2 separate regions of the Homo sapiens genome follow, and region 2 is linked to region 1. The links come from fine-mapping of genetic effects on gene expression. A gene starts in region 1. The other region holds a variant in brackets. All regions are shown on one strand. Distances are between the middles of the regions.

Region 1 (16,894 bases):
TTTCCCCTGCCACTAGATTATTTTGGAGTAAATTCTAGACATCATTTTATCAGTAATTACTTCAGCATGTTTTTTTTGTTTTTGTTTTTGTTTTTGTTTTTGTTTTTGCAATGTCGCCTGTCACCCAGGCTGGAGTGCAGTGGTACGATCTTGGCTCACTGCTACCTCCACCTCCCTGGTTCAAGCAGTTCTCCTGTCTCAGCCTCCCAGGCAGGTGGGACTACAGGCACACGCCACCATGCCCAGCTAATTTTTTTATTTTTAGTAGAGACAGGGTTTCACCATATTAGGCTGGTCTCGAACTCCTGACCTCAGGTGATCTACCTGCCTTGGCCTCCCAAAGTGTTGAGATTACAGGCGTGAGCTACCGTGCCCAGCCTAGCATGTACTTTTAAGAGAATAAGGACTCCTTTTAAAAATATAACCACACTATCACACATAAAATAATTAATAATCCTTTATTATTAGCAGTGGTCTCCATTTAACTCATAAGTTATTTTTTTAGTTCTAGTCAGATCCAAACAAGGACCTCACATTACCATACTGCTTTTTCTTGACTCATCAGTTTTTTGTTTGTTTTTGAGACAGTCTCGCTCTATTGCCCAGGCTGGAGTGCAGTGGCACCATCTCAGCTCACTGCAACCTCCACCTCCCAAGGTTCAAGTAGTTCTCCTGCCTCAGCCTCCCAAGTAGCTGGGATTACAGGCATGCGCCACCATGCCTGGCTAATTTTTGTATTTTTATTTTTGAGACGGAGGCTGGCCGTCACCCACGCTGGAGTGCAATGGCATGATCTCGGCTCACTGCAACTTCTGCATCCTGGGTTCAAACGATGCTCCTGCCTCTGCCTCCGGAGTAGCTGAGATTACAGGCACCTGCCACCACGCCCAGCCAATTTTTGTATTTTTAGTAGAGATGGGGTTTTGCCATGTTGGCCAGGCTGGTCTCAAACTCCTGTCATGCAGCTGGTTTTGATCAGACATCCTGTCATGCTTTATTTGGCCATTCACAATCAATAATAAAAGACTTCTTTAAGGGGATAGGTCTCAGTTCATCTGTTTGTCCCATAGGCCTCTGCCCTGCCTGGGAAGCTGCTGGGTACTGGAAGGGTACTAAGGTACTAAGTGGAAGATGCTTTAGGGCACATGAGCAGGAGCAGCAGTTAGACTGAGGGCCCTTCACGTGTTAGCATAAGGAGGCCAGTCTCTTACTAGAAGCCCTCGATCAATCCTAGGCAGTTCATTCAATTTATTTAAAGAGGCCTCCTGTCTTTGGCTGTGGTTCTGCAGAGCTTTTGGGCCCTCTGTGTGCTGCAGGTATGGGATAGAGGAGCTGGCTGGCACAGGACCTTCAGTGGATCCCTTAATTTTTTGGCCCTTCTGAATCTTCTCGACGCCTGCTGTCTTCAGGTTCAGAGCCTCCCTGGGGTCCCACACCATTCCTTGTCTCTCATTTCCAATGGTGCTTTCTTGTCCTTGTGCTCCAAACTTCAGCTTCTGTTGTCATACCTCTCTGAACTTTTTCTATCTTCCGGAAATTATTTGAAATGAAATCCCTTGTTCTCTAATGATCCTTCCTTCAGCAAAAAGGCCCAATTTGTAGTTCAGAAGACGTGGTGCTTTTTACAAAAAGTATGTTAATGTTTTACCATAGACTGGACTAAGTAGAGTGTGTGTGTGTGTGTGTGTGTGTGTGTGTGTGTGTGTGTGTTTAGAAAATATTTATTGAGTTTCCTATTTTATGCCAGGCACTCTTCTAGGCACTTGGGATAGATGTATTCAGTGAACCAAGGAGACATACTGTTGACTTTGTGGAGCTTACAGTCTGGTGGGGAAACACATGGAACGTGTACTTATAAATATGTTAAGGGTTATAAGAAGAGACATAGGAGTACCATGAGACCAGTACAGCAGGGGGAGCTAACGTGGCTCAGAGAAAAGGGCGCCCTAGGGAAGTGATATTTAATCTGAAATCTGATGGCTGAGTAGGAGTTAACCAAAATAAGAGGGAAGAGCCCTTCAAATTTGTATGTCAAAGTGCAGTAGCAAGTGAGAGTCTGAGACCAATAGAGAGTAGCAAGTGAGAGCCTCAAACCTTCTCCTGTTGGAGCACCAGGCTGTACTACCTCAGGATAGTCCCTTGCCTTCTCTGGATCTGGCATTCCTCACCCCTAAAATGAGGAGACCACATGCTCCTTTCAGCTGCAAAAATCAATGAGTCCAAGACTGTTTAAAGTTAAGGTCACTGTTTAAGTGAAGGTCCATCTCTCCCAAAACAGCTGTAGTTGGAAACTTATCTCAAGCTGGTGGGAAGTGGTTTGAAAAAAGGCAGGGAGGGGACAGTGTGATATCCTGCGAACCTATCCAGTTTCTAGCCACATAATCACTGGGGTCAGGCTTCTCTTCTCCTTCTGGCTCTCCTTCAGACACACCAAATCAGCAGTCCAAAGGGGACCACAAAGTGGATCCTCAGGACATCGAACCCTGAAGAAAAAGCAGCCACGTGTACTCCAAAACCAAAAAAATACGTTGAGCAATGTCTTAGTCATCTTTTGTGGGTTTGATTCCCCATCCCCCAAAAATGACTTAAGTTTCTGATTTCAAAACATTGTGTGTATGTGTGTGTGGTTTTTTTTTTGAGACAGATTATCATTCTGTCACCCAGGCTGGAATGCTGTGGCATGATCTCATCTCACTGCAACCTCTGCCTCCCAGGTTCAAGCAATTCTCCTGCCTCAGCCTCCCGAGTAGCTGGGAGCCTCCTGAGTAGCTGGGACTACAGGTGTGCACCACCACGCCCAGCTAATTTTTTTGTGTTTTTTTTAGTAGAGACAGGGTTTCACCATGTTGGCCAGGCTGGTCTCGAACTCCTGACCTCAAGTGACCTGCTCGCCTCAGCCTCCCAAAGTGCTGGGATTACAAGCGTCAGCCACCGTGCTTGACCAAGAACATTGTTTTAAGTGTAAGTGTGGTTCCTTCTCTGGGGCCTTACACCAGGATTGTGGTGAGACGATGTATTGTTCTCCTTTCTTTTTTCCTGTTCTTCTGTATTTTCTTATCTTTTTACAATAAGCAATTATGATTATAATTGGAAGAAAACAAAATCTACTTTTATTCGTAAATCTCAATCAATATACTTCTCAATTAATTGTCTAGAAAAAGCATGGACCTTCTAACTGCATGGCACAGTGAATAAGTGAGTTGGAAATGGTATGACAGCTGAAACCTGCCTTTGATGGGTGATGAGCGATTGCACTGTACAGCAGCTGTGTGGACTAGAAAGTGGGTAGTGGTGGCCAGAATTTCTTTATTCATATACTCCTTCAACAGATATCCGTCAGTTGCTAGCTGATATAGTTTGGATGTCTAACTATATTGGTGGATAGCTGTTGGATGTCATGTTGAAATGTGAACCCCAGTGTTGGAAGTGGGCCCTGGTGGGAGGTGTGTGGGTTATGCGTACAGATCTCTCATGAATGGCGTGATCCCCTCCCTGCTGTAATGAGTGAGTTCTTGTTCGGTTAGTTCAAGTGAGAACTGGTTATTTTTTAATTAAAAAAAATTATTTTGGCCGGGCATGGTGGCTCATGCCTGTAATCCCAGCACTTTGGGAGGCCAAGGTGGGCGGATCACGAGGTCGGGAGATCGAGACCATCCTGGTTAACACGGTGAAACCCCATCTCTACTAAGCATACAAAAAAATTAGCCGGGCATGGTGGTGGGCGCCTGTAGTCCCAGTTACTCGGGAGGCTGAGGCAGGAGAATGGCGTGAACCTGGGAGGCGGAGCTTGCAGTGAGCCGAGATTGCACCACTGTACTCCAGCCTGAGACTCCATCTCAAAAAAAAAAAAAAAAAAAATGCAAGGGACTACATGTGTGCACCACCATGCCCAGCTAATTTTTGTATTTTTAGTAGAGACGGTGTTTCACCATGTTGGCCAGGCTGTCTTGAACTCCTGACCTCAGGTGATCTGCCTGCCTTGGCCTCCCAAAGTGCTGGGATTACAGGCGTCAGCCACTGTGCCTGGCCCTGGTTGTTTAAAAAGAACCTGGCACTTCTCCCTCTCACACTTGCTCTCCATCTTGCCATGCAACATTCCGGCTCTCCTTTCCCTCTACCATGTCTAAAAGCTTCCTAAGGCCTCACCAGAAGCAGATGCTAGTGCCATGCTTCTTATACAGTCTGCAGAACTGTGAGCCAAATAAACCTCTTTTCATCATAAATTATTCAGCCTCAGGTATTCCTTTATAGCAGTGCAAACGGACTAACACTGCGTAACAAATTAATCAATCTGTGCCTGTGATTTTCTCATGTGTCAAGCAGGGATAATAATTATACCTACCTCATAGAGATCCTTATGGGGTTAAATGAGGTAATTTATATAAAGCAGTTAGAATACAACCAGGCACGGTGGCTCACACCTGTAATCCCAACACTTTGGGAGGCCAAGGCAGGCAGATCACTTGAGCTCAGGAGTTCAAAACCAGCCTGGGCGTATGGTGAGACCCCCGTCTCTACAACATAAATAAATAAAATAAACAGAATATTACCTGGCATATGGTAAATATACAATAATAGTTTTGGGGTTTGTTTATGGATTTCCTTATTTTAATAAGTATCTCATAATATGTACAAAATGCTGCTATATTAGACACAGATCTTTTCCTTAAAAAGTTAGGATTCTGGCAGAGAAAAAAGACCTGCCCCCAACTAAATATGTGTCATCAGAGAAAAGGGTATGTTTCTTAAGAGAGAAACAGAGCATACTAAGGAAATTCAGAGGAAGGAGAGACCCCTTCTAAACTGGGGGTAAAAGGTGGAATTAAACAGCCAAAGTTTCCTTCATCCTCAAATGGAGCTGATGCTGCTGTCTGTGAAAAACAGCCAAGTTTCCTGAAGGGAAGCCCTTTAAGAGGTGGTAGTGCAAGGGGGTTGTGGATTCAGGACTGGCACCACATGGTCCCTAGTTAGAGTGCAGGCTCTGCCCCTTGCTCCCGTGAGCCTTTGAGCAGGTTGGTCGGCTCACCATGCATCTGTTGCTACAGCTGTAAGATGTGAATATTAATAATGTCTCCTGCACCCGATTATTGTGAGGATGACATGAAGTGGTGTTCATAGAGTGCTCAGTGCACAGCTTGGCCCCAGCCCACATAAGTGTGTCCAGTATTGTCAGTTATAAGAAGAAATGAATGTGCCAGTGTTGCTATGGTTCTGTCTTCCGGGATTCTGTCACAGACGTAGAATTATTCCGTTCACAAGGGAAGTGATACAGAGTACATGTTGTTGAAGAAAATGATGTTGTTTTTATGAATGGGCTCCTTACTATTATTTTTGTTCAAGTAACAAAACATGATTCAAAGCACCCATCTTCAAGAGCCCAGCCTCATTTCCTGACACCTACTCAGTCTTCTGGAATAAAGGCTCAGCCAAACAATAGCCCTGACCTCCAGTCCCTCCAAACTGAGTGTTGCTGCTGAGAACAGGCCTTACAGCTCTGGGTGGGCTTTTGTTCATTACTCATCGTGACATTCTGGAGAAATACAGGACCCTTTTGACTTCCCGACCAATCTCTGACTTTCTTTCATTGTCACATCACCATTAGGGCAAAGGATGATGAAATGGTCAGAATTAGACAAGAAGTATTCAAATATTTTTCAATGTATAGTATGTGCCAGGCACATAACCCACACAAGAACCTTGGAGAGTAAGGCTGTTATTCTTCTCATTTTACACTGGGAAACCAAAGCACAGCAAGAAGGTCTAGGGACCAGAAGGAAGCCCACATCTCTCTGAGCTGTGAACGGCTGCTCTCTGTGGGTTACCAGGCTGGTGTTTTTTTGTTTTGTTTTGTTTTTTGTTTTTTGTTTTTTTTTTAAAGACAGAGTCTCACTGTCGCCCAAGCTGGAGTGCAGTGGTGCAATCTCGGCTCACTGCAACCTCCATCTCCTGGGTTCAAGCAATTCTTCTGTCTCAGCCTCCCAAGTAGCTGGGACTACAGGAACACGCCACCACGCCTGACTAATTTTTTTTGTATTTTAGTAGAGATGGAGTTTCACCGTGTTGCCCAAGCTGGTCTCAAACTCCTGAGCTCAGGCAATCCACCCACCTCGGCCTCCCAAAGTGCTAGGATTACAGGTGTGAGCCACCGCGCCCGGCCAGGCTGGTGTGGTTTTTATTCCACAGCAGTCCTACGTCACATTGTCACATTGTTGAAAAGCCTTCAGATTGACAAACTCCCTCCTAATATAGCCTGTTTTCTTGGATGTTTTCTGATAAGCATCTGTGTTTTCTGAGAACTAATAAAAATTCTTGTTAAACCACAAATTACCACAGCCTCTTCCTTACCTATAGAGAGCCGCTTTCCCAGTAAAGCTCCGGTCCTACCTTCCCATCACCATCAAAGTGGCATTGAAACAGATCAGATCTGCTCCTTTTGAGGGAGTTAGTTGAAGCCCAGTCTTGCTTCAGGCCACACAGGATTTGGGTAGCAAAGCAAGGAAAGCAGCCTCTCTGACCTAGTGGCCTGAGTGTTTCCTTTCCCAGGCTGGCTGCGGCAACCACTTTGAGAAATGGCATTGGCATTGGCATGTGTGTGGCATGTGTGCTGACCTAGTTAGGAGTTGAGGCTTCATTTCTAATTCTGTCCCTTTCGTTTTGAGCTGTGTGACCTTGGGCATGTCACCTAACTTCTCTGTATATGTCTTCTTATCCAGGAAGGAGAGATTAATAATGTAGCCTCATAGCACTTATCTGATTCTCCTAAGGATGTTATGAGAATCAAATGAGATTATGTACAACGAGAGCAAACATTTATTCAATACTTAGTATGTACCAAATACTTTCAGTTTCCTTACATGTGTTTTTTAATTCTCACAATCCTAAAACAGAGGCACTAGTATCCCACTTGACAGTTAAAAAAACTGAAGTTCAGAGAAATTAAGTCAGACAGGACTCAGATCCACATCTGTGGCTCCCAAATGATGTTCCTAACCACTATGCATGTCACTCGCTCCCCATTGTACACGAAAGTAGAGAGATGTTCTTTGTCTTTACCATCAAGCACTCTCCAAATGCAAGAAATGATCTCTCGTAACCACTGCTGTTCCATGTTGGTCCCTAAGGACACTTATAGCCTGTTACTTGTTTGTCTTATCTTGTAGTTTATGCTGCTGCTTTTCATGTCCCTAAGGACTTGTTCAGTGAATTCTTTTGGTTTTACTCCCAGAGAATCTGTTCATCTCCTTCATAAAGGGGGTTAAAGGTGCCCAGCTGAGCCTGGCATCTTGGGCAGTGGCCTCTGACTTCTCCAGGGTTCTTCCTTCCCTCAAGCATGTAGTTGGGTAGCTTGTAGTAAAATGCTCTATAATGCATTTGTTTATAAGTTCCCCAGTCACTGATTTTTACTCATTGAATCTCAGAAGTGGAAAGCACCAAAGCCAGCATTTTGTTGATAGGGAAACTGAGGTCCAGAGAGGGATGTGACTTGCTTGAGGTCATTCATTCAGTTGAAGGCCTGACCAAGACTGGAACCCAGTTTCCCAGGGGACACACCAGTGCTGTTTCCAAGCCTTCCCCGGGGGCACACATCACCTCCCCTACATGAAGGACAAACTCATGTACTGTGCCCAGCATGTACCTAGGAGACCTGGGAGAAATGAAACAACTTGGAAAATTGGGCAGGAAGAAAGAGATGGGTGTGGGGTGGGGTGAAGATCTCCACCCTAACTAGTATATTATATACCAAAGAAAGGAATTAAACACACAGGAAAGCAGACAACCCACTAAGAAGCAAAGGAATTTACCCAGGAACCCTGGCTCAGTGAGTGGATAGGAAGCCTTTTGTCACTAAAGCTGCAGGGTTGAAAATTGAAGGAAGGATATTAGGCAAGCGTGGTGGCCTGGGATGCAGTTACAGCCCCCTGGCTCATTGTCCAAAGGAAATGGATCTCTCCTGTGGACAGAGAGGTGGAAACTGAGTGAGTGAGTTGTGTGGTTGACATCATCAGGCTGAGCATTGGATTACAACAAATGGGGACTTACTTGGCCCGAGACATGGGAAACACCCACTAAAACCTCAAAGTGCTTTTCATTTAGGAGACACGGGGAAGAGACAGAGAGGAGGGTAAAGTGAGAATCCTGCCCGCACCACAGGTCTGGACTGCTAACCTTGAATCCTGGTTTCTTAAATTCTGCCTCCGCTTCTGACTGAGGACCACTGGATTTTGAGGAAACTTTGGTCTTGTAAGTAGAACTTTACTCTCCTCCCCTGCCCAACACCCCCAGGGAGAAGCAGAGCTTGGAGGCAGAGCTCTCTGGAGAGCTTGCTTTCCAGCCTGTTGGCCACAAAATGTCTATTTTTATATAATGATATATGTGAGCTTGCTCTGAAAATTATGGCCTTGTCTGAAACTGCCTAAGGCTAGTCGGAGCCTCCAGTCTCACAAATGGGCTCCATTCAGATGCTGTTTCATTTTTACTCAAAGAACTTTGACAGAGTATTCAGAGCTTTAAAAGCAGCTCCTTGCTCCAAATATAGGTGAAGAAATAAATCTTCCCTAAGAAATTCGTGTTTGTAAAACCCTTTCTTTTTTTCTGATTACAAAGGTGGTATAATAATTTTTAAACATTCTAGAAAGAAAAGTCTCCGAAAGTAGTGAAAATTCCCTATTATCTTCCCCCTCAGGAACATGGTTGTTGTGTTAAATTTCAGTTACAGATATGGTCAGACTCCATGAATTTACCACATATAAACCCAGTGCTGCAGCAGCTGTGTGGAAAACTCCAAGATGGAAAGGGGTTGGAAATCTTTAACCTTGGGTTTGCGATCTTTTTATTGCTTCCTTTTAAAAATTTGCTGTTTATGCCTGGAATATAAACAGGACATGTAAGCCTTTAGGCATTTTATTTGTTGGTATCTGTTTTCAGGGTTTGAAACTAAGCAAGCTACTCTGTAGAGAGGGAAAGAGGGGGCCCTTGCTGTACCCAGGTCCCTTACTTGGTGGGTCCCTGAACTGAGGAGGATTCCTAGGTGGCTTGAGATGGCTTGCAGTGTGCTAACAGGGGAGGTGTCCCCTCTTAGCAGGTTAAGTATATTTGAAAAGTTACAGCTAACGGGAAGATTTCAGCTTCAACAAAAAGCTACCATATATTAGAAGGGTCACCCAAGGAAACTGTCACCTTGGGCAAGTGTTTCACACTCTCTGGGTCTTGTTTCTTTATTTGTACCTAATGAGGGGACAAAACTAGATGATCTCTGTATTTCCAAATTCAGTATGAAATGAACTGTCCATATTTCTTTTCCCTTTGTATTGGGCCCTTATGGCTTTAGGAGCAAAGGACCCTAGGTTTTCAGTTTCCCAGAGTAGCTAAAAACGGGTGCCTGTAGGACAGTTAAAAGAAGACATAAAACAGGCAACATTAAGTTACTTCTGAGTTTTTATGGGTCTTTTTCAGATTAGGTGTTCTTGAAGAAAGAGAAAGAAAAAGTCTCAGTGGTAACTGTATGTGCACACGCATACACTAGCACATACACTTGGGGAGAGAGGAAAGAAGGAATTGGCATTATTGAGTATCTCTTAAGCACTAGGCCCTATGTTATGCTCAACCCTTTACAGAGCACTAGATGGTCAGTATTATTCCCTAACCCCATTGACTGAGGACAACCATCTACTTATATGTTTTCATATTATCCTGAACTAAACTGTATTTACATAATTACTGGCATAACTTCAATTCCCCATGTCTCCACTAGACCATCTGCACCTTCTCTGCGTGTCTGTCTAGCCCATCACTATGCCCCACTGCCTAGTAGAAAGCCTGGCACATAGGTACAAAGGAGACACAACTTAATTTAAACTTAAAGCCCGCCATCCTAGTTCCTCATTTGGCAAGAAAGAGGGAGAAGAAGGGGGAAAATCCCTCTATTTGCCCCTCTTTCATCATTTAACATAGAGCCACCCTCTCCTGCCACAAGGGAAGGATAGCCACAGCCAGAGTGCAAAAAAAAAAAAAAAAAAGCAAAAGACGTCAGATCTTGAATTTTGAGTTTCCAAGGTGCCGGGTCTTGACAAATTAAGGTTTTTGCTTTGTTTTGTTTTGTTTTTGTTTGTTTGTTTTGTTTTCTTTAAGGGCATCAGAGACCCTAATCCTCAGGAAGTTGTGGTATTTAGAAACTATTTGTTTGAATTAAGGTCCTAGTTAATAAGAGGGTTCTCAAAGGCCCTTGGCACTTCTTTTTTTTTTTTTTTGAGACGGAGTCTCACTCTGTCTCCCAGGCTGGAGTGCAATGGTGCAGTCTTGGCTCACTGCAGCTTCCACCTCCCGTTTTTGTTCAAGGGATTCTCCTGCCTCAGCCCCTCGAATAGCTGGGATTACAGGCGCCTGCCACCACGCCCAGCTAATTTTTGTATTTTTAGTAGAGATGGGGTCTCTTGGCACTTCTAAAGCTGCAGTCTTCCCCAGCATTTCATCCCATGAAGGTGGACTGTTGCTGCCATGGACCCACCCATGGGCATGGGCAGTGGGAAGGCCAGGGCATCCTCTGCTTCATCCCAGCCCCGCTGGGATCTTGAGATTTGGGGTAATCAAAAAAGGCATCCTTTTTCCTAAGGTGGTGGTGAGGAGGTGATGTTCTGGAAGGAAGGTACCTAGACTTTGTGGTCCCTGCCAGGAAGTGGAGAGTGGAAATGTGGAATGCCTCACACTCCTCAACTAGGTAGGCCTTCATGTACCAGATGAGGGTGGCTTTCAGTTCTTGTTTTGTGTGTCAAAGTTGCTCCTGTTATCAGTGTGTGTTTGCTGATCTCTCCCACCTCAGTCACTCCCGGCAGTGAGTTTAGGGCATCTTGGGAGTGGAGGTAGGTTGTGGAAAAGATGTGTCCAGAGATCTCATTTGGCTTTGGTATCTTCCTGAAATAAATGTCACACACAGGGCTGGGCATCTTGCATATGCTGACTTCTCTTAATCTTCACAGCAATGATGTGAGGCAGAGATCATCTCCATTTTACACCTAAGAAAGGCACAGAGAGGTGCAGTGGATTGCCCAGAGTCTCACAGCTGGCAGGGGCTAGAGCTTGAGTTCCCAATGAGAACTGGTTGTCCCCGAAGCCCTTGAATATTTCACCATACTGCAGTGCCTTTTTCATATCACCTCCCTGGATCTCAGTTGCTCCATCTGTTAAATGATGACAAGTGAACTCTAGTCAGAAGTCAGAGTGGTGTTTTGTTTTTAATTTGAATGCCTTTAGGCAGGTGTGTTCTCCAGTTCATTACCATTTGCGCATTCCCCTGTGCCCTCTAGTCTCCTGCCTGGCCCCTGGCCCCTGTGGGAATTTGCAGCCCTGCATCTGGTTGGTGTCTACCGTTTCTTTCGATTTAGACAATCTAGAGGGCAGTGAGAAATTGGAAAGGGGTAGCAGGTAAGAGCTCTCGAGTTCAGTGAGAAATTGGAAAGGAATAGCAGGTAAGAGCTCTAGAGTTCAGTGACAAATTGGAAAGAGATAGCAGGTGAGAGCTCTTGAGTTCAGTGAGAAATTGGAAAGGGACAGCAGGTGAGAGCTCTCGAGTTCAGTGAGAAATTGGAAGGGGATAGCAGGTAAGAGCTCTGCTTTCACCGCCTCCTAGCTGGGAGATCCTGGACTGATCACCTCACTTTATAGAACCTACTTCTCTTTCTGTCAAGTGGGGGGTCACAGTCATACTGACCTCAAAGGGGTGCCATGCGGATGAAATGAGATAGGGCTCATAAAGCACTTAGTTAGTACAAAAATACATGCTTAGGATTAGCTGCTCTCAATTTCCAGAAAGAGAATGTCAGCCAATGTACACAGGCATCTGCCCCCTCAGACATAGGATGGCATTTGCATGAGGAACCAGAAGTTATCTTTGAACTCATCATTTTGAAACCCCTGTGATGAACCCTGGAGCTGCCATGTTGGCTCTTCAAACCAAGCCTCAGCATTATTTCCTGTCACCCAGTCAAGTGATGCTGAACCTCAAATCAGCCAGCCAGTGCTGAGGCCAAAAGCAGAAGTGGGTGCTATTCTCTTGGGACCAGAGGACCCTAGCCCAGCCACTTAAGGAAGAAGCTGGTAACAGGTGCTGGCTGTGACAGACAAGAAGCTGAACTGGCCCAATTAACTCTGCCAAATGCTTTCACGAGGGGCCAGAAGCAATTCCTAAGTGGAGACTGAGGTGGAAAATCTAAAGTTCTGGGAAACAGGTTATTAATCATGACCCTAGGCTGAGCTCACTACCTCCTGGAAATCCTTCAGAAATGTCTTAGGAAAACTTGGAGTACTGCTCCTTCAAAGAGTGGTTTCTTTGGAAGTTGCCGTGGGCTCCTATGCTGACTGATTATGAATTGCAGATTAGAACACATAATGTATCCGCTCTTACTGGAGGAAGCTGCATTTCCAAAAAGAAGTCTCTTTAATGTTTCAAGAAATTACAGGCTTTAGCTTGACTCTTCAGAACTGAATAATGGCCCTTCATGGCACCGAAGAAAGTATTTGGTGTATTCTTACTATGTCCCAGGAACCTAGGTCAGTTACTGTTTTAGTACTTTATCAGTGTAGTCTTTAACATTCCATAAATGTACATTGAGGACCTGTTAGTACTAAGCACTGAACTAGAGGACCAGGGTAAAGACACTGCCTCTGGTCTTGTGGAATTCTCTGTGCAACAAGGGAAGATAGACAGAGGAGTGAATAATTTTAATGGCACGTGAAAAGTACTGCAAAAGAAATATGCACAAGTGCTACAAAACACCAGACACTGGATCAGCATATTGTGGAGGTCCTGATCTTGCGCTGGGTTGATTCCTTCTGCTCTCTCCCTACAATTCCTGGCTCTGGGAGCTTTGCCAGCATTTGCATTAGGGAGCAACTGAGAGCTGCCCCTGCTGAAGCACTCATTTCTGGCACCTTCCTATCCCCCGTGGCTTCAGAGGGGTGGAAAGAACACTTCCTTACAAAATGTATGGGCCCCACCTGAGAGGGCCCTGAATCTGAAGTCCAAAGTTGTAGTAAGGAAACAGAGGGACGGGTGACTTTTGTAGTCTAAAATCACCACTGATTTTCCGTTGGTTTGTTTTTATAACATTTATTGTGGATTTTTTTTTTCTGATTGCAAAATTAGAATATGTTCAAGGGAAGAAAAGCTAGATAGTACAGAAAAACACACTTAAAATAAATCATCACTCAGTGATTTCACTTCTCTGTTTTTGAATAAGGGCCTGTCTCCCAATCCCCCCACCCACATACCGCTGTATTTCAAGTTTAGCTCTAATTTTAATTTCTCCCTGGGCAAAGTCTCATGTTTGTTTGCATATCTCAAAGGTGCTTGTGTTGTGGGCTCCAATCACTACTATCTGCAATTGGTTAGAGCCTGCGGCCATCATTTATACTTTCCTGGACGTGTGTGTAGATTCATCTACTGCTAAGAACCCTTTATGTGTTAGGCATTATGCAAGGTGCGGTGGGGAATGTCGAGGTAAATAAGACTTTGAGGTTGCTCATGGCCGGATAGGAAAAAAAGACTCAGATAACATGAACACATTGTGAAAATGTGCCCCAAGATGGGGACAGAGTCCTGTAGAAAGCCTAAGAGATTGGAGGAGCAGTAGCATTTGAGCTGAGCCTTCAATAAATTTTTCATGTATTTAGCCAATATTTGTTGAGAACCTAATATCCGCCAGGCACTGGGCAAGGTGATAGGTGGATGATGTTAAATATAACAGGCATGGCCTTTACCTGCATGAAGTTTACAAGCACAAATGGTGGCGTTAAGAAGTCAATAAGCAGGGGGAGTGAAAGAGGAGAGTGTGGCTGGGGTCTTCCTTGAAAAGGTGGTATTCAAACTGAGAAGAGGGCTGGGCGCGGTGGCTCATGCCTGTAATCCCAACACTTTGGGAGGCCAAGGCGAGTGGATCACCTGAGGTCAGTATTTCAAGATCAGCCTGGCCAACATGGTGAAACCCCGTCTGTACTAAAAAAATACAAAAATTAGCCGGGCGCGGTGGCACGCACCTGCAGTCCCAGCTACTTGGGAGGCTGAGGCGGAAGAATTGCTTAAACTTGGGAGGCAGAGGTTGCAGTGAGCTGAGATTGTGCCATTGCACTCCAGCCTGGGTGACAGAGTGAGACTTTCAAAAAAAAAAAAAGAAATGGAGTCACTTATACCAAGAGTAAAGGAGGGAGAGGGAGTAAAGAAGGGTGCTGGATTATTCCTTCCTTTGCTCATTATTGATTCTAAAAATCTCACTTATTTTCTGTATTCAGTTTCCTTTCTATTGGAGAATATTCTTGGGGTCTGTGAATGGTAAACTTGCCCAGTCTTTGTTTGAAAATATCTTTTGCCCTCACACTTGATATGTTAGCTAGATATAGAATTTTTTGCATAGCATGTGTAATGAATGTGAAAGTTATACATGCCTCTTTAAAAGTTTTCAATCAAAACAGAAATAGATAATGTACAAAGTGAAAGTCTTTCATTTCTTTTCTCACAATTTCTCAAAAGAGAATAATTTTTTTCAAAAGAGAGAAGTTTCCCAGGGGGAACCATTGGTTACAGTTTGCCCTTTTCTATATATACTGAAAATTGTTTAAAGTGTAAAGTATGTATACTTTTTAAAAATGTGCACGTACACAAATGCTGTACTTTTTTTTTTTCTAAACATAAATAATCATGTTCACATTTGAGCAGGACACAGTAGTTCACACCTGTAATCTCAACTAGTCAGGTGGCTGAGAGTGGATGATTGCTTGAGGCCAGGAGTTTGAGGCTACATTGAGCTATGATTGCACCAGTACACTCCAGCCTGGGGACAGAGTGAGACCTGGTCTCTTAAAATTAAAAAGAAAATGTAAAGTTCTTTTTTTAATTAAAAAATGATAATATATGCAATTTTACAATATGCTTTTTAACAATCAAGCATGTACTTTTTTCCACATCAGTACAATGAAATCTCCTTCATTCTTTGAAGTTGCTGTATAGTTTCTCATGATATTGATACACCATAATTTAACTATTTTTCTATTAATAGACATTTAAGTTGTTTTCGCCCCTTGGTTTTGCTACTATACAGTATTTCACTGAGTATCTTTTTACTTAGGTAAATATATCTGTAGTATAAATTCCTGGACATTTCAGGAATGTGACGTGTCTAGGAATTTGACCCCAAAGGATATGTATGCACATTTAACAAGTTAATAGATATTGTCAACTTGTCTTCCCAAAAGATTGTTTCAATTTATAATCCCAGAGTATGTCTGGCTCTAATTTTTGTTTTTCTTCTGGTTCCTTAGAATTCCCGTACTGATTAGTCAACAGTGGAAAATCTGAAGAGATGCAAGCAGGAAAAAGAAATTAAACCAGGTAGGTAGTGGCACTGTTCATACTCTACTGCCAGAGCAGCACACGTTTTTGCCTGAATATCTTTATTTCTGGTTGAAGGAAGAAAATACGTAAGTTCCAAACTAAATTAGTGGGAGATTTTGACCTTATGAAGAAAAGGCAGGATGGCTCTTTTCAGAAGTTATATACATAACAGCATGCTACAATTTCACAGTCAAGATTCTGTTTTCAGGCGTTTTTTTTTTAATAGCATCAGAAAGAAAATTTACCTTTGGTGGCTTAAGAGGGGATGGGTTTCCCGGCCATGTACTTAAGCTTAAGCAGGTGGAATCATACACAGGAGTTATTAGCAACATTGGGCCTGGTGCCAGCTTTCCTCTCCACCAAGTGTTTGCTGTAAAGCTGTTTTCACAAAGACCAGGGCACATTATGGGAATTTTCATTTTAATGCTGTAATAGAGGAGCAAAAGCCAGCAAAACCCAACCCAAAGAAATGGGTTCGGCCCAGTAGTCTGGTGAGAAGGGATGAAGATGCAGTCCCTCCAGCTGAGAACAAATTGCCATTCAAAGAGCACAAGTGGCCCACCTGGCAGTATGGCCACCTTGGGTCCAGTGTCCATAGTTTATGATATCTAAATGTTTCTGGCATAAGTTAATAATTTTAAACTCAGGGTAACATAATAATCGACTTTTTACCTAAAGCAGCAGTATTTATCAACAAATCTGGTGAATTTCTTTGAATTGTCAAGTTGGAAGTACTGGGTCCACAGAGATCTTTTCACCCACCAGGCATCCATCAGCATCCATGGATGTGGTTGTTAAGGTATCAGAATTGAAGGCTATTCTAGATTGGCCTACACCCACCTGGACCTTCTCCATAGCTGGAATTTTCACAAAGAGGCTAAAGAGCCTGGGGATGAGCGCATCGCTCTGAAGAGCTTGCCGAATCCACTGTGCATCTGTCCATAAGCTAAGGATGGTGTGAGGACTGAAAGCTGCATGGGAGAGAGAAGGTCTTGTGATTTTCTCTCTCTTCAGCACTGTAGGGGGCACATTGCAGCTGTGTCTGGTGCAGCTCAGTTTAGACTCCTGCCTCAGCCAGGAAAAGTTTTTTTCATTTTTACATTAATTTAGCAGGTATTTATGGAGCATCTTCTATAAATTGGACACCAGATAACAAAGCAAAAGTGGCACAGTCCTTGCCCTCAGGAAGCTTGTGGGTCTGGCTGACAGTAGACTAGTAGCAGTAGTCTGCGGTAGGTCCAGAGGGCTAGTGGGCAGAGGGTGCTGCGGCTTGAAAGGTATGCAGGAGATGACTTGGAGAAGAGTGGGCGGGGACAGGCTGGGGGCTTGCGGAGCAGCACAGCGAAGGCCTGGAGGCTTGGGGGGTGCAGCACTCCATGGAAATTCCATGGGCCAAACACAGTGCAGAGGGGGTTCCCTGGCTGGAGTTGAGTCTGGAGGTGTCCATGAATGAATCTGAACTTTATCCTGATGGCTCTGAATGGAAAGTCGCTGGAGGGCTTTAAGCAGGGGAGA
Region 2 (16,894 bases), 29 kb before region 1:
TATACATATATGTTTCTGCCTTCAGAACACTTCACAAGTATCATTCCAGTAAAAACTGAAAATCATAGATGTACATCATGAGTGTAGTTCATGCAGAAACTTTAATTGCTTGAACTTACTCTCAAGAAAAGGCCTTCACTGGGCACAGTGGCTCATGTCTATAATCCCAGCACTTTGGGAGGCTGAGGCAGGTGGATTACTTGAGTCCAGGAGTTCGAGACACAAGCCTGGGAAATACAGCAAAACCCTGTCTCTACAAAAAATACAAAAATTAGCAGGTTGTGGTGGTGCATGCCTGTACTCCCAACTACTCGGAGGCTGAGGTGGGAGAATCACCTGAGCCCAGGGAGGTTGAGGCTGCAGTGAGCCATGATCATGCCATTGCAGTCCAGCATGGGTGACAGGGAGAGACCCTGTCTCAGAGAAGAGAAGGAGAGGAGAGAGGAGAGGAGAGGCTTTCATCCCTTAGCCAGTATTTGGAAAATAAACATGCATTTTTAATGATTCCTCTCTTTAACTGTATTTTTTAAAAAATGAGTTATACCATTATTAGTTCTGATTCCATCAAGGAGAGAACTTCTACTTTGTTTCTTAAGTTGTTATGTATGGGTTACTGTGTATCAATTGAAATGAATATCACCAGGCCTTATTGTTGGTCATTATAAATTGTGCCCTGGTGAACTTCTTTCCAGAGACATCTTCTCTAGTATATTTTTTGTTTTTTTGAGTTCTTTTTTTTTTGAGACAGAGTCTTACTTTGTTGCTTATGCTGGAGTGCAATGGTACAATCTTGGATCACTGTAGCCTCTACCTTCCCAGTTCAGGCGATTCTCCTGCCTCAGCCCCCCGGGTAGCTGGGACTACAGGCATGCACCACCACTCCCGGCTAATTTTTGTATTTTTAGTAGAAACGGGGTTTCACCATGTTGACCAGGTTGGTCTCGAGCTCCTGACCTCAGGTAATTCCACCCGTCTCAGCGTCCCAAAGTGCTGGGATTACAGATATGAGCCACTGCACCCAGGCCCCTCACTGATTTTAAATAATGTGAAGTTTGGAATGTCTCAGGGAGTTCAATGTAATGGAATTTGTCCTGATGTTATTTCTTTTTCCAAATCACATAGCACTTCAAACTTTTCTTTTTATAACATTTCTCATAAATAGTCCTCCTCCATAATTACCTTTGTGTTTATTTTGTGTCTGCTACTAAACTCTTAGCTTGTTGAGGACAGGAGTCCTTCCTTGGACCTCTGTACATCCTAACATACAATGGGTGCTCAATTTATGTTCATGGAATGAGAGAATGAATCAATGTCACTGTCTTCTATTATTGCATAGACATCTTCAGTAACACTTCCTTTGAATTCATTGTCAGTGGAGCTAGTCTTGTAGCCTTTTCAATAGCTTACATTCCGTGTTGGAGCAAAAAATGTTAAATGTTTATAAGGTAATTTCAAATATAAGCAAAAGTAGAGAGAATGGTATAAAGAAACCTCCATTATCTATAATCAAGCTTCAACAATTACCAGCATTTTAGAGCAAATTTTGATTTAGGATAAGGGTAGAGAGAATATGATGACATCAGGATGCTGATTTTGATTTTGTGGGGAGAGAAGCAGGCCATGTGTGGTGAGCAGGGTAGAGAAAGAGGAGGCTGGTGGCCCAAATACAAACCTGCCTCATAGGAGTTGTCTTGAGGATCACTTGAGTTGACATAGGAAAGTGGGAAGAACAATGCCTCACACATGGTGAGTACAGCCTAAGTGCTCCCACCACCATTACTATCACTCCTGCGTAGTTTGTGGGAGCTGAATGTGGGAGCTGTGGCACTTACTAACTTGGTGACTTTGGACACCGACCTTTCTGAGCTGCAGTTTCTTCGTCGGAAAAAATGGGAATAGTAATAACATCTTAAACATAGCATTGGCGGGGCGCGGTTGCTCATTCCTGTAATCCCAGCAGTTTGGGAGGCCAAGGTGGGCGGATCATTTCAATTCAGGAATTTGAGACCAGCCTAACCAACATGGTGTTGGTTTTAATGGAGAACCCTGTTCTCCATTAAAAATAGGCTGGGCATGGTGGCTCATGACTTGTAATTCCAGCACTTTGAGAGGCTGAGGCAGGCGGATCACTGGAGATCAGGAGTTCGAGATCAGCCTGGCCAACATGGTGAAACCTCGTCTCTACTAAAAATACAAAAAATTAGCCGGGTGTGGTGTTGTGCACCTGTAATCCCAGCTACTCAGGATGCTGGGGCAGGAGAATTACTTGAACTTGGGAGGTGGAGGTTGCAGTGAGCCGAGATCGCACAACTGCACTCCAGCCTGGATGATAGAGCAAGACTGTCTAGAAAAACAAAAAAACCCAAAAAAGGTAGCATCTTATCCCACACAGGCAGTGGAATAATATATGTAAATATGTTCTGGGTTAATTAACATTAATCACAATTTTCCAGAGTGGTTTTCTAGTCTGGAGGGAGGGACCATGTTTCTGGAGGTTTTTTCGGGAGTCAAGCCAATTCCTTCTGTGTATTCTCATTCTGAGACTTCATAATATTCGTGGCAGAGTCATTTGTCAGCCTAGCAAATAAACATTACAGGACAATAGGCTTTGTTTCCGTTTGCAAAATGTTTTTTAAATAATGAAAACAATTTTACTTTATGTAGCTTGTCCATATATGCACTGAAAATGAAATACTTATCAACCAAGTTGATAAAGGGATAAAAATAGTTTTCCTAAGGAAAACTATTTGCTGGGGATTTGTGTTGGACAAGTTTTGTAGCAGTCTGTTTCCCCGTCTTTGAAATATAAACAGCATCTTTATTTGTCTAGATTTTGCTTATAACAATTTGCTCAACTCCTAATTAAAGATAGCTCTGTCATCCACACATCACTTAGCTACTTTCCTAAAGCCAGAATTTCTTTAGAAAATCAGTTTTCTTTTAAGACTTCAAAACACTTTGCCTTCTCCTTAGTACTATAAAGAATTCTAATTATGTAGGACATTCATCCAGCCACTCCTCCCACCACACACACACACACACACACACACACACACACACACACACACACACACATATATCTGTCTGAGATAATAATTAGATACTGTGGGAAGAGAAATGAAATATCCCTGATGGTTTTAATAATTTTCTGCAGTGTTTGTTTGGACAAGAAAATCAGCTGTCACATCCCCTGGGTATGAGAGTTATATAAACCCAGATCAGAAAGTCAATGCTGCAGACTTAAATTCTCAGGAAGTTTTAAAACTTTTAAAACTACCACTTGCCTTTTGGATTTGACTTTTTAAAAGTTTGATTTTTGCTTTTTCAGATACTAAACTTTTGGCATTCTTAGTATTTGTGATTTATAGCATCTTGTACTTTTATAGACTTACTTATTCAAACAAACTAAACCCCCACTCTATGCCCAGATAACAAAAAAACACGTACAAGATACAGTTTTATCTCAAAATGAGCAATATCCTGAAGCTATCATTTGGTCCCAGTGACATATGAACTGTTCGTTTTTTTCCCCATATACTGTTCTGTGTAAATGTTCTATTACACAGTCTTTTTTTCTGGATTATTTTTCTGGAGATTTCGTTATACTTTGTTGATGTTTCTTTTCAAAAGCTCCCGCACAAATCATCTCCAGTAGTCATCCAGCCAGTGTTGTACTAGAAGATGTGTTACTTCTAATTTAAACTTCCATTTAAGGCTTGACGCTGTGGCTCACACCTATAATCGCAGCACTTTGGGAGGCCAAGGCAGGAGGATCACTTGAGCCCAGGAGTTCAAGACCAGCCTGGGCAACAAAGTAAAACCCCATCTCTACGAAAAATGGAAAAAAATAGCTGACATGGTATCACATGCTTGTAGTCTCAGCTACTTGGGAGGCTGAGGTGCGAAGATGGCTTGAGCCCGGGAGGTAGAAGCTGCAGTGAGCTGTGTTTGCCCCACTGCACCCCAGCCTGGGTAACAGCATGAGATCTTTTCTCAAAAGAAAACAAACTTCCATTTGAGAAAGTGACAGAAAAGTTTTGGATTTTTGTAATTATAGGAATTCTTTACTTTTCTTTGATAATATTATATCTCTTTCAGTGAAAAGGGAGTTAGGAAGAGATCTAAATGTACTCTTTGATCTTCCTTGTTAATCATTTAAAAATGGAATTCGGAGCTAATTTTAACTTCTGAAGGACCTGGGGGAATTTTATCTAGCACCTGAGGTATACCTTAGTTTTTTATGTATTGAATCTTTAGGACCAGTTTTATTCTTTCATTTAAATATGTAGTGAGCATCTAGTATGTGCTTACCATTGTGCTGTGTGTTTATATATATTATCTCATTTAATTCTCACACAAGCGTTGTTAGATACATAAAAGGGGACTTCAAAAAATTCATGGAAAAAATTGAATTAAAAGATAAAAATGAAAAATATAAACTTTATTTCTCAATATAAACTCCATCAAGTTCAAGGCAATATTGTAGTGATGATACCGGCCATTTAGCCCGTCCCTAAAGAACTGAGGGTTCTGGAAATTTAGCCATATTAATGCAGTCTTTTTTACATTATTAACTGAAAAAAAAAATGGATTCCCTTTAAAGATTTCTTAAGATTAGGAAACAAAAAGAAGTCAGAAAGAGCCAAATCAGGACTGTAAGGTGGATGCATAATGATTTCTGTGCACAGTGATTTCCCATTGAAATCTCGCAAAAATTGCCCTTGTTTGATAAAAGGAATGAGCAGGAGGAGTGTTGTCATGGTGGAGAAGGACTCTGGTGAAGCTTTCCCAGGCGTTTTTGTGCTAAAGCTTTGGCCACTGTGCCCAGCCACAACTTTCATTTTGTTAAGTCATCTAATCCTTACAACTGCTCCATGAAATAGGTACTATTATTATCCTTATGTTACAGATGGAGAAACTGAGGCAGAGAGCGGGACAGTAACCTGCCTAAGGTCCCAGAGCTCTAGAGTCAGTGGTCTTAACCTCTATTATGACCTCTCACTTAATGAGGGCCAGATTTCCCCTCTAGCTTTTTATTATGAAAAATTTCAAATGTGGAAAAAAATTAACAAGAGTACAATGAGCACCTGTATCAAAAACCTAGCCCAAACAATTGTTAACATTTTGCTGCATATAGTTTATCTGCATGTGTGTATTTCAATTTTTTGCTGAACTATTTGAAAATATATTATGGACATTATAATTCACTCCTTAAATACAAAACAAAGCAACATTTTCCTGTTTTTTTTTTGAGACGGAGTCTTGCTCTGTCGCCCAGGCTGGAGTGCAGTGATGCTCACTGCAAGCTTCGCCTCCCGGGTTCACACCACTCTCCTGCCTCAGCCTCCCCAGCAGCTGGGACTACAGGCACACGCCGCCACGCCTGGCTAATTTTTTTGTATTTTTAGTAGAGACGGGGTTTCACCGTGTTAGCCAGGATAGTCTTGATCTCCTGACCTTGTGATCTGCCCACCTCGGCCTCCCAAAGTGCTGGGATTACAGGCGTGAGCCACCGCGCCCGGCCCAACATTTTCCTTTTACTTGGTAAATGCATTCTTGGAAAATACATTGCCTCTAAAATCATGCAAAAGTACTTTGCTACAGACAAAAAGGAGTGGAGTTCTAGGTTCAGATAACTGTAAAGAGCTTTACATGAGTATCTTGATATTTAAAAATCAAGCAGAGTAAAGGGACAATTTTTGTTTCTATAAGACAGCCCCTCAATTTGCTGGATGTTTAACATCTTGGTCTCTACCTACTAAATGCCCATTTGAATGAGGAGACAATTGACTGTTGTGTCAACCAAAAAATGCCTCCCATCCCCTCCGTTTCCAGAAAGTCCTCTAGCCAGCTGTGCCTGTTGAGTGTCATTGACTTGACTGGTCTTCTGCTGAAGGAGCTATAGGTTAAATTAAAATAAAATGTGCTGTCACAGAATCCTTATCATCATGATTCAGAGTTGAGGTAATAAAGGTGGTAGAACTTATCTGTAATTCTCCTTTAGTTCTACAACCACATATGCTCTAGATTTGTAAACAAATATTCATTTATTCTGTTGTATTCTACCACCACCACTTTGTTCCACAAAAGGTTATACAGCAGATTTTTATTTATTTAACCATTAAGAGTGTCTCCCCGTGTATTGGAATCGGCTAGGAAATATTCGTAATTGCTACACTTTTCTATATAAAAAGGGACTTGAAGCAGACTCAGGGCCAACACAATGTAGAATCTGTTTCTTCTAGCTTTATTTCTCCCTGTGCTGCTAGAGGTACCAAAGGGTTTGTCTCAACTGTTACTACCCCTGACATATTCCATTGATCTCTTTACTTTTCTCTGTTGTCTGTCAGTCTGTTTGTCAGACTTATCTCAAATGCCACGTTGTTTGCGCGTATTTCTCAAAGCCATCCATCAGGATACAATCTAAATCATCACAGCACATTCTGTCTTGTGACACTAAGCACAGACTGCCTGTGTTACATTTGATTGTGTGTTTCCCTTTTCTTCCACATATGTTTCAGTAGTAATTTCCTGGGCAACTTATGTGTGGCGGGCCTTGTTTGGGATCTTGGAAATAGAGAGATGAAGCTCTCCTACATAGTCTCATTTACTTCCAATTTTGCTTTCTTGATAATTGGAGTAGCCTTTTCTAGCTTGTATCCCCTGCAGTACCTGATGCATTGCCTTGCTCAGGGTAATTCATATATATTTCTGAATTCAGTTTGGAATGAAAGGAGACAAGCAGGCACTTTTGAATCAAATCTGGTGCTGCCACTATGCAACTGTATATAAATCTAACCCAACCCCTGTGCGCCAGGTTCCTTATCTGTAAAACATGGATAATAACAACCATCTTACAGGATTGTTGTAAAGTTTAAAGATGAATTGTATGAAGCCTAGCAGAGTTATTGGCACGTAGTAGGTGCTCATGAAGTAGTTGTTATTGTAAGGGAGGTTCAGTCATTCCTTTAGGTCACTTGAGTGGGCAGTGGAAGCATTTAGGATCTTAATTGTCTTTAGGGAAATGCTTACTTAGTCTGGGGGCTTCTCCGAGAAGCAGGCTCTGGGGAAGGTCTGGCTCATTGCTGATTAACTGTTCCCTTTTTAGAGTCAATGATCTGAGTCTGTGTTTTGGAACCACTTATATAATGTATACCACCTGTTATTTGTGTATTTTTAGAAGTGGGAGT[C/T]GGGTAATCCTAGTCCTGTCAGTAAAAGAGCAAACTGTTTACCAGAAGCAGAGCTTTTTTCTTAACACTGACTCACACTGACTCATCTTTCTCATTTTTCTTCCCACCGCCTCATAACAACCTTGCAAGAGAGAGAATTTTTAGGGAATCAGTTGACTTACTTTTTTGTGATTTTCCAAAGTTGAAAGCTTGAAGGTATCAGGTCATTAATTCCATCCCAGGAAAGGCTAAAGTTTATGCTGCCTCGGAGTGCCAGTATGACCAACGCCATGTAGTGAATATCTCACATAAACCCTTGTCTAGACAAACCACTTCTGTTGGCTGAGAGGTTAGACAAGTGCCTGAAGTGTACATGTTAAGAGTAAACACATTTTGCTCTTTGAAAATGGTTGCCTTAAGTTGAACCTGGAAAGTTTGCTCTTCTGAGATAGGAAACCCAAGCAGTATTAGAGTCAGAGCTGTGGTAGCTTCACAGATGGATTTCAGATAACAGAGAGGCCAGACAGCACATTAGATCAGCAAAATGGTGAAGGAAGCTTTATAGATCAGAATGACTGATATCTTTGTGCCTTCATTTAACATTCATTAAATGAACATTTACTGATCATCTGTGATATACTTGGTGCTAGGGTTATGACAGTGACTAATAAAAACATAGTGCCTGCTGTCATGGACCTTATACTCTAATGCTCGTTTATAGTAAATGCTAAGGGAACAGAGAGATGCCTTGGCCTGCATATGTGAACATGTTCCTGTGCACACGGGTGAGGGGAGGAAGGAAGGCTCCTTGGAGGAAAAGGCACCCAAGCTGAGTCTGGTGGGGTGAGTAGGCATTAACTAGGAGAAAAGGGTTAGTTAGGGGAATGTGGGGTTGGCTGAAGAGTATTACATGCTGAAATGAGCTATGAGTCTTGGGGTCGAGAGAAGAGCTTGCCCTTGGAGAAGCTGAAAAAAGTGACCAAAGGACAGTGAGAGGGAAGTTTGGCACAAAATAAATTCAGAGAAGCTAACAGTGACAGCAGAGCATTGTAGACCAGTTTATTAATTTAAAAAAAAATTTTTTTTTTTTTGAGACAGAATCTTGCTCTGTCGCCCAGGCTGGAGTGCTGTGATATGATCTCAATCTCAGTTCACTGCAACCTCTGCCTCGCAGGCTCAAGCAATTCTCGTGCCTCAGCCTTCCCAGTACCTGGGATTACAGGCACACACCACCATGCCTGGCTAATTTTTTTTTTGTATTTTTAGTAGAGACAGGGTTTCACCATGTTGGTCAGGCTGGTCTCGAACTCCGGCCTCAAGTGATTCACCCACCTCAGCCTCCCAAAGTGCTAGGATTATAAGTGTGAGCCACTGTGCAAGGCCTAAAAAATTTTTTAATCCAGATAAATTTAACATATAGTGAAATGCTCATGACAAATGCATATACCTATGTAACCAACACCCCATTTTGAGTAGGAACTTTTAACTTGGTAGTCAGAGCAAGGGGAAGGATGGGTTTTTGAGCAGGGTCCAGACTTGATGCTAATTGCTAGCTAAGAACTGGGACAAGGGTGAGGGGGTGAGGGGGTGGCAAGTACCAGTGGGGACAGAGCTGGAATAGGCAGTAGTTTGCTGGTGGGCAGGAGCTTCCAGCTTGGGGGCAAAAAACAGATTCTTGGTTTTCCTAACTTGTTTTTAGCAGAGGACAAACCTCTAAGTGCTTTGTAAGATCCAAAGTGTCTATGCAGAAGACAACAGACTGTGTTTTTTCAAAGATTTTCTGGGAAGACTTCCAGGCTACCTGCAGTTTGAAGAAAGTCTTCTGAAAAGGGCAGGGGGCGTGGGGGCACCTACAGAGACAGGATTTCCCCCAACTCGATAAGATACAGGAAAATAATCATCTTATTGATTTACTTTTGTTCTATAGTAATGTGACATTTTTTCTTTTCTGAGAGTAGGGTATTAAAAATTGTTACGGTTTTGGGTTTTACAGATTTGTTGAAGCTTAATATCATTTAAGTGTCCTATTTTAATATCTGTTTTAATATCTGTATTTTTGACAGACTGCCAGAAATCATTTAACATGTTACTGTGCTATTTTTGTTGATGTTGTCATTATTATTTTTGTTGATGTTATTCTTAAAGAAAAAAGAAAAGATACTATCGATAGAATTATCGTCAGTATTAGAAATTAAGAAATGTTTTAATTTCAATTGAAAACAAACAAGTAAACAAACATGAAAATGTATTGAGAGATGTGTGTATTCTCTACCTTTGTTTTATTCCTTTTACAAAAACTATAAGGAATAGTGCTTAACAGTGTACTGTCAAAACACTGACATCTATTTACAGGAAGTTCATTTCTGACCAGAATTGTTTGTTTGTCTCTCCAAAGCTTGCCAAATTCTATAGGTTTTATGTAAGTTTATAAATATTCTTGTAAACATTGGCTTTAAACTAAATCCTTCTAAATATCCAAACTACCATGTATCTTTCTGTGTCTAAATTCAGAGATACCATCCTGTTGGCTTTAGATAAGTTACAGAGTAGTTTAGGCCCACATGATTTAAGCTCACCCACAGTTCTTTGTTGATACTTGAGGATTTCATCTGAAAAGCATCCTGTTCATACTCTGAAAATATTTCTTTCATCTTAGTACTCCCACTCATTTTGTGTGTGTATATGTGTATAGATTATTTTATTGTTCCACATATATGTATATTTATTTTTTGTCCACTTGCTAGGGAACCTCATTTTTTTTAACAAGAAAATACTTGTGTGATAAGGTCATAAAACCCAAGAGTTGGGAGGAATATTAGAGACCTACTTTATTTATTTTATTTTATTTTATTTTTTTGAGACGGAGTCTCGCTGTGTCACCCAGGCTGGAATAGTGCAATGGCGTGATCTCTGCTCACGGCAACTTCTGCCTCCCAGGTTCAGGCGATTCTCCTGCCTCAGCCTCCCAAGTAGCTGGGACTACAGGTGCGTGCCACCATGCCTGGCTAATTTTTGTATTTTTAGTAGAGGCAGGGTTTCACCCTGTTAGCCAGGATGGTCTCGATCTCCTGAACTCATGATTCACCCGCCTTGGCCTCCCAAAGTGCTGGGATTACAGGCATGAGCCACCACACCCAGCCTAGAGACCTAATTTAAAGTTTATTGCTGCTTTATTACTCTGAACAACTACATCATTTATTACCTAAAATAATCTTTTTATTTTCTGTTCTCATTTAGCTGAATCTCTGAGCTTAAAAAAAGTGTGTTTGGCTTATATATCACATTATCCCACATATGTTACAACCAAAACTTAATTATTAGCCATAATAGTGTCTTTTGGCTAATATTAGTAGTAAGATTTTTGTTTGTTTGTTTGTTTTTTGAGATGGAGTCTGGTTCTGTCACCCAGGCTGGAATGCAGTGGCGCGATCTCGGCTCACTGCAACCTCTGCCTCCTGGGTTCAAGTGATTCTCCTGTCTCAGCCTTCTGAGTAGCTGGGATTACAAGCGTGTGCCACCATGCCTGGCTAATTTTTGTATTTTTAGTAGAGACGGGGTTTCACCATGTTGGCCACGCTGGTCTTGAACTCCTGACCTCAGGTGATCTGCCCCCCTTGTCCTCTCAAAGTGCTGGGATTACAGGCATGAGCCACCGCGCCTGGCCAATAGTAGTAAGTTAATGAAGATCTGTACTAAATTTGGATTCCAAGTGAAACATTTCTTTTTTTCTTTTTTATTTATGGCAGAGTAGAGGGTTGATAGATATTTGTTGGCTTTATTAGTTTTCTCAAATTGGTATGTAAAAATAATACTAGATATATAGGTTTAAGTCTCCTTCATAAGATTTTCTTTCTTCTAAACCTTTGGAATATGCCATGCTTTTCAAAAAGCCCCACTCATTATTTTTATGATAGTGGAATAAAAGTCTCCAATTTGTCAAGCTCATTATTCAAGCCTTCCAGGATTGTTTGCAGTTTTAAAATAAACTGCTGGGGGTTTTATGCATCTTGCAATATGAGTACTTAATTAAAATTAAAAAGGGGGCCATGCATCTATCTATTCTATTAAGGTCGTATATAAATAAATGATTTTATTGGGATTTTCAGTGTATTTAGAGTAATCTATACTTAATGAGAGGGACTTGTACTTTTCATTTCTTTGTACTATTTTTCAGCCTTTCCTGAACAGTAAATGTTTTAAAAAAAACTATACCCTTATTCCTTGGTCTCTAAGAACTGTGGTGGGCTGGGCGCGGTGGCTCACCCCTGTAATCCCAGCACTTCGGGAGGCAAAGGAAGGTGGGTCACTTGACAAGGTCAGGAGTTGGAGACCAGCCTGGCCAACGTGGTGGAACCTCGTCTCCACTAAAAAGACAAAAATTAGCTGGTGTGGTGGCGAGCGCCTGTAGTCCCAGCTACTCGGGAGGTTGCTGCAGGGGAATTGCGTGAACCTGGGAGGCAGAGGTTGCTGTGAGCCGAGATCGCACCACTGCACTCCAGCTGGGTGACAGGTGACAGGTGACAAAAAAAAAAAAAAAAAAGGCCAGGTGCGGTGGCTTACGCCTGTAATCCCAACACTTTGGGAGGCTGAGGTGGGTGGATCACAAGGTCAGGAGATAGAGACCATCCTGGCTAACACAATGAAACACTGTCTCTACTAAAAAAAAAAAAAAAAAATTAGCCAGCCGTGGTGGCGGGCACCTGTAGTCCCAGCTGCTCAGGAGGCTGAGGCAGGAGAATGGCGTGAACCTGGCAGGTGGAGCTTGCAGTGAGTGAAGATCACGCCACTGCACTCCAGCCTGGGTGGCAGAGCAAGACTCCATCTCAAAAAATAAAAAATAATAAAAAAAAAAGCTGTGGTGGAGTATATGGTACAAACATGAGACTTGGTGCTCTTTTGGATTCCTAAGGCTTTTCCATGTCTGAGAACTCAGGAGGCAGCCTTTGCATAGCAGAGGGACTAGGAACCTCACTATTTCTCCAAAGTTGACTAGCTTTCTATAAGATAACCCCCATAAAATCACTAGTCATTAGTAATAAAACTTTGTCTTTAAATGACTATAATATTTTTAAAAAGGACAATGAATATGTACTCTATGCCATCCCTTTCCATACTGTAAATGTGTTTCTGAAAGGTATGCTATTTAGATATACTTGAGTCCTATTCTAATATACGGAGAGGTTGCTTTTTAAATTGTCCTCATCATTGTGGTAGTAATAGTAATATTAGTAGTACTGGTAGTTAACATTTATGGAACACTTCATATATTTTACATACATAGCTTCCTTTAACCCTTATAATAATCCTATGAGTTAGGCATTTTATTCTCTCCATTTTGTGGGTGGGAGAACTGAGACTTGATATGTGGACTATATGATTGATCGATTGGTTGATTTTGGTAAAGTTCAGATATCTTTTGTCCTGTGCTTGACACTCTAAAATAGTAAGTATTTGGGTAACAAATAATTGTAAGAGAGAGAAAATCATCTTATCTTTTGGACTATTCCCTTCTATTCCATTCCTACTGCCAACACTCCAGTCCAACCTCACATTTCTTTTTCTTTCTTTTTTTCTTTTTTCTTTCTTTCTTTCTTTCTTTCTTTCTTTCTTTCTTTCTCATTCTTTCTTTTTCATTCTTTCTTTTTTTCTTTCTCCTTCCTTCCTTCCTCTCTCTCTTTCTTTCTTTCTCTTTTTCTCTCTCTTCTCTTTCTTTCTTCCCTTCTTTCCCTTCCTTCCCTTCCTTCCTTTCTTTTCATTTTCTTTCTTTCTTTCTTACAGGGTCTTGCTCTGTTGCCCAGGCTGGAGTGCAGTGGCATGATGACAGCTCACTGCAGCCTCCACCTCCACAGCTCAAGTGATGCTCCTGCCTCAGTCTCCCAAGTAGCTGGGACTATAAATGCGTGCCACTGTGCCCAGCTAATAAAGCTCCTTCTGCTGAAGTTATGCCTAAACCCTTCTTTGCACATGTCATTCCTTATCACTTATCACCTAAAGAATGACAGGGGGCTTTGGCTTTGAATGGCCCTCAGTATGTATAAGCACCTAAAGATTTCAGTTTATCTCAGCTTCAGAGCAGTCCATCTCATCTGCCTGTTTTTCTTCTTAAAATAAACTTTTAAAAAATAATTAAAGTTTTTAAAAGGTGCAGAATATTTAAGTAAGATTTCTTCTCCCCTTTCCCCTAAATCTCCATTCTCATTTCGTAGAAGTAAACCATTCTTAACAATTTCCTGGATAATTCTTCCAGAAATTATGCATGTCCAAACATAAATATAAAATCTATTGGTTGCTTAAAAAATCTATAAATGAGATCATATTATACAAACTATTCTACTGCTATTGTTCACATAGATACATTTTATTCTTTTAAATGACTTCATGGTTGTATCACTTACAAACCTTTTGGCTTTGAGTAACAGAAGCAGGGAATGTACAGAAGGGGTGTCAGACAAGGCTTCCAAATTATCAGAACCAAGGCAGGCCAGGGAATCATCATCCTGTTTTAGCTGAAGCAGCCAGGCCAGTATGTTGCCATCACTGCCCTTGGACACTGTCAGGAATAAATTCCAACTGTTCCTTTGTCATAGTGTCATTTTTTAAGGTTCAGAGTCCCAGTGAGACTATGCACAATGGGGAAGTACCCCCAAATAGAAAGAAGTGACTGGATGTTGGAAAACTTAAAAAATGATACATTTCCATTACATTGGTATTCTATTGTATAAACATGCCATAATTTATGTATTAATAACTAGCCACTTCTTGGTGAATATTCAGATTGTCATATTCAATTTTTTACTAGCAAAAACCACTGCTGCAAAGAAAATTATTTATGTCTTTGTGCATTTTTGTAAGTATATCTGTGAGATTAATTTCAAGAAGACTGTGCTGGATCAGAGAGTATGTATATTTAACATTTTGATGTAGCGCCGGGCATGGTGGCTCATGCCTGTAATTCCAAAACTGAGAGGCTGAGGTGGGCGGATCACTTGAGCTCATGAGTTCCAGACCAGCCTGGGCAACATTTTTTTCATGGGCAAAACCCGGAGAAGAAAATATGAAAAAAATACAAAAAAAAAAAGAAAGAAGGAAAGAAAAAAGAAAATTAGCTGGGCATGGTGTTGCACACCTGTAGTTCCAGCTACTCAGGAGGCTGAGGTGGGAGGATGGTTTGAGCTGGGGAGGCGGAGGTTGCAGTGACCAGAGATTGTGCCACTGCACAGGAGCCTAGGTGATAGAGCCAGACCTTGTCTCTAAATAAATAAATAAATAAATAAATAAATAAATACCATTGTGATGTATATTGTAATTCATGCTTAGAAGCTTTCACTGGTTTACACTCCCATCTACAAAGTGAACTGGCTTTTAACTTACAAGATACAAAGTTATTTATGGCCATATATTCAGCAAAAGCCACAAAGTGTCACACCAGGTGAAAAGGGAAGTCCAAGTTTCTGAGGTATAGAGTTTCAGTATTTATCAGGTAAGCATAGCTACCAAAGCCATTTTTGTTCTGGAAGCATTTGCTGATCCCGAGAAAGCATTTTTTAGGTTAAGCTGTATTTTTGGTGTCTTCATATATGAGGACAGAATTCTTAGCTTGTTGTCCGTCAAGGATGGGGAATCAGATAAACCACTTTTTTAGTTTGAATGGAACCCCTAAGGGCATAAGAGGGAACTTGAACTAAGCCAACCCTCACAATAGCCTTGCCACCAAGCTTCTAGGTGTAGGGAATGTAGACCAAGATCTTTCATCATTATGGTTCTCAAGTAATAATGCCATCAGGCAGCTGGCAGAAGCAAATGCAAATTTTCTCTCGAGGAAGATGTTATCATCCCGGACATCAAAATAGTCCTCTAAATAATTTTTTATGTAATCACTAGCACATGGGATTAAAACCAGGTTCACAAAGAAATAAGATACCATGAAAAGAATTAGCAAAAGCCATATACAACAAAAGTATCAAAGCCATGAGATACTGGAATTTCAGATGCAGAATGTAAAACACTGTATTTACTATGCAAAAAGAAATAGAAGCCAAGATAAAAACGTCACAATGGGCCGGGTGTGATGGCTCACGCCTGTAATCCCAGCCCTTTGGGAGGCCTAGGCAGGTGGATCACCAGGTCAGGAATTCAAGACCAGCCTGACCAACATAGTGAAACCCCATCTCTACTAAAAATACAAAAAATTAGCTGGATGTGGTGGCGGGCGCCTGTGATCTCAGCTACTTGAGAGGCTGAGGCAGGAGAATCGCTTGAACCCGGGAGGCAGAAGTTGCAGTGAGCCGAGATCGCACCAGTGTATTCCAGCCTGGGTGACAGTGCGAGACTCCGTCTCAAAAAAAAAAAGTCAGTAAGTAGACACTGTCAAAAGTGACAGCAGATTTGAAAAAATCCAAATAGACATTCTAGAACCAAAACATATAATAATCAAAAACAAGAATGCAGTGGATGTATTTAAAGTAGATTACCTAGCAAGAGAGAACTAGTGAACTAGAAGATAGAAGAAAATTCTCCAGAATAAACCTTCAAGAGATTTAAAAAATGTAAAATATAGAAAAGATGATTAGAGAATTAAAACGATCCAGTGACAAGTTCTAATATGCATTTAAAAAAATTTTTTTTTCAAGTTTTTTCTTGCTGCAGTGTCCAGGCTGAAGTGCAGTGGCTATTCCCAGGTGAGATCATGGCACACTGTGGCCTCAAACTTCTGGCCTCAAGTGATCCTCCCACCTCAGGTAAATAGGTGGGACTGCGCCCAGCTTTAATATACATTTAATTAGAATTACAAAATGAGTGGAGCAAGAATGGTGCAGAAGCAATATTTGAAGAGATAATTGATGATCATTTTCTAGAACTGCAGAAAGATGAATTTGCAGATTCAAAAGTGTATAGCCTTAAAGAAAAGCTAAAAGCTAAAAACTGAGCAAGCATCCATCTTGTAAGTCAGATCACATTTTGTAAGTCAGAGAAAACACAGCAAAATAATTCTGAAGAAGATAAAGAGAAGCTAGGCATGGTGGTGCATGCCTGTAGTCCAAGCTGCTTGGAAGGCTGCAATGGGAAGATTGCTTGAGTTGGAGGCCAGCCTGGGCAGCATAGTGAGACCCCACCTACCCTGTCTCTAAAAGAAAGAAAATAAAGGGAAAGAAAGAATGAAAAGAGTAGAAGTTATGAAGTATAAAGCAAATGTATAGCAGGGAAAATCAATGAAGCCAAAGTATGATTCTTAGAAAAGATTAATAAAAATGATAATACTCTGATTAGGTTGATCAAGAAAAGGAAGACAGAAATAAAGAAAGGAGCACAAATAACCAAAATCAAGAATGAAAAAGAGGGGGCTGGGCCCAGCCTTTAATCCCAGTACTTTGGGGGACCGAGGCGGGCAAATCACTTGAGCTCCGGAGTTTGAGACCAGCCTGGGCAACATGGCCAAACGCCATCTCTACAAAAATTAGCCAGGTGTGGTGGTGTGTGCCTGTAGTCCCAGCCACTCAGGATGCTGAGGTGGGAGGATGGCTTGAGTCTTGGAGGGGGAGGCTGCAGTGAGCCTAGATCGTGCCACTGCACTCCAGCCTAGGGGACACAGTGAGACCCTGTCTCAAAAAAAAAAAAAAAAAAAGAGTGCTTAAAAAAAAAGAGTGAAAAAGGGAGATAGTATACTCATTAACAAAATAATGATACTATGAATACTATGAATAATTTTAAACCAAAATTTTGAAAAT

Direction of the effects. Alleles are on the strand shown, and positions count from the first base shown. SD is a standard deviation of normalised expression in the study named.
With allele T in place of C in region 2, the expression in breast of the gene that starts at base 8,089 in region 1 is higher (moderate effect, 0.63 SD a copy in GTEx).

Evidence for each region.
Region 2: its variant is fine-mapped to the expression of PKIG in breast (GTEx, PIP above 0.99). The same link has a PIP of 0.9 or more in subcutaneous fat.

What each region holds. Positions count from the first base shown.
Region 1 is chr20:44,574,491-44,591,384 of GRCh38, forward strand. PKIG (cAMP-dependent protein kinase inhibitor gamma) reads left to right here and starts at 8,089. Exons shown (of 4, transcript NM_001281445.2): 1 at 8,089-8,241; 2 at 15,307-15,376. RefSeq lists an enhancer at 5,030-5,169.
Region 2 is chr20:44,545,830-44,562,723 of GRCh38, forward strand. It overlaps a transcript of PKIG not described here. Among named protein-coding and RNA genes, the nearest start is that of PKIG, 28 kb to the right of the region's middle. The variant C/T (reference allele first, on the strand shown) is at 7,191.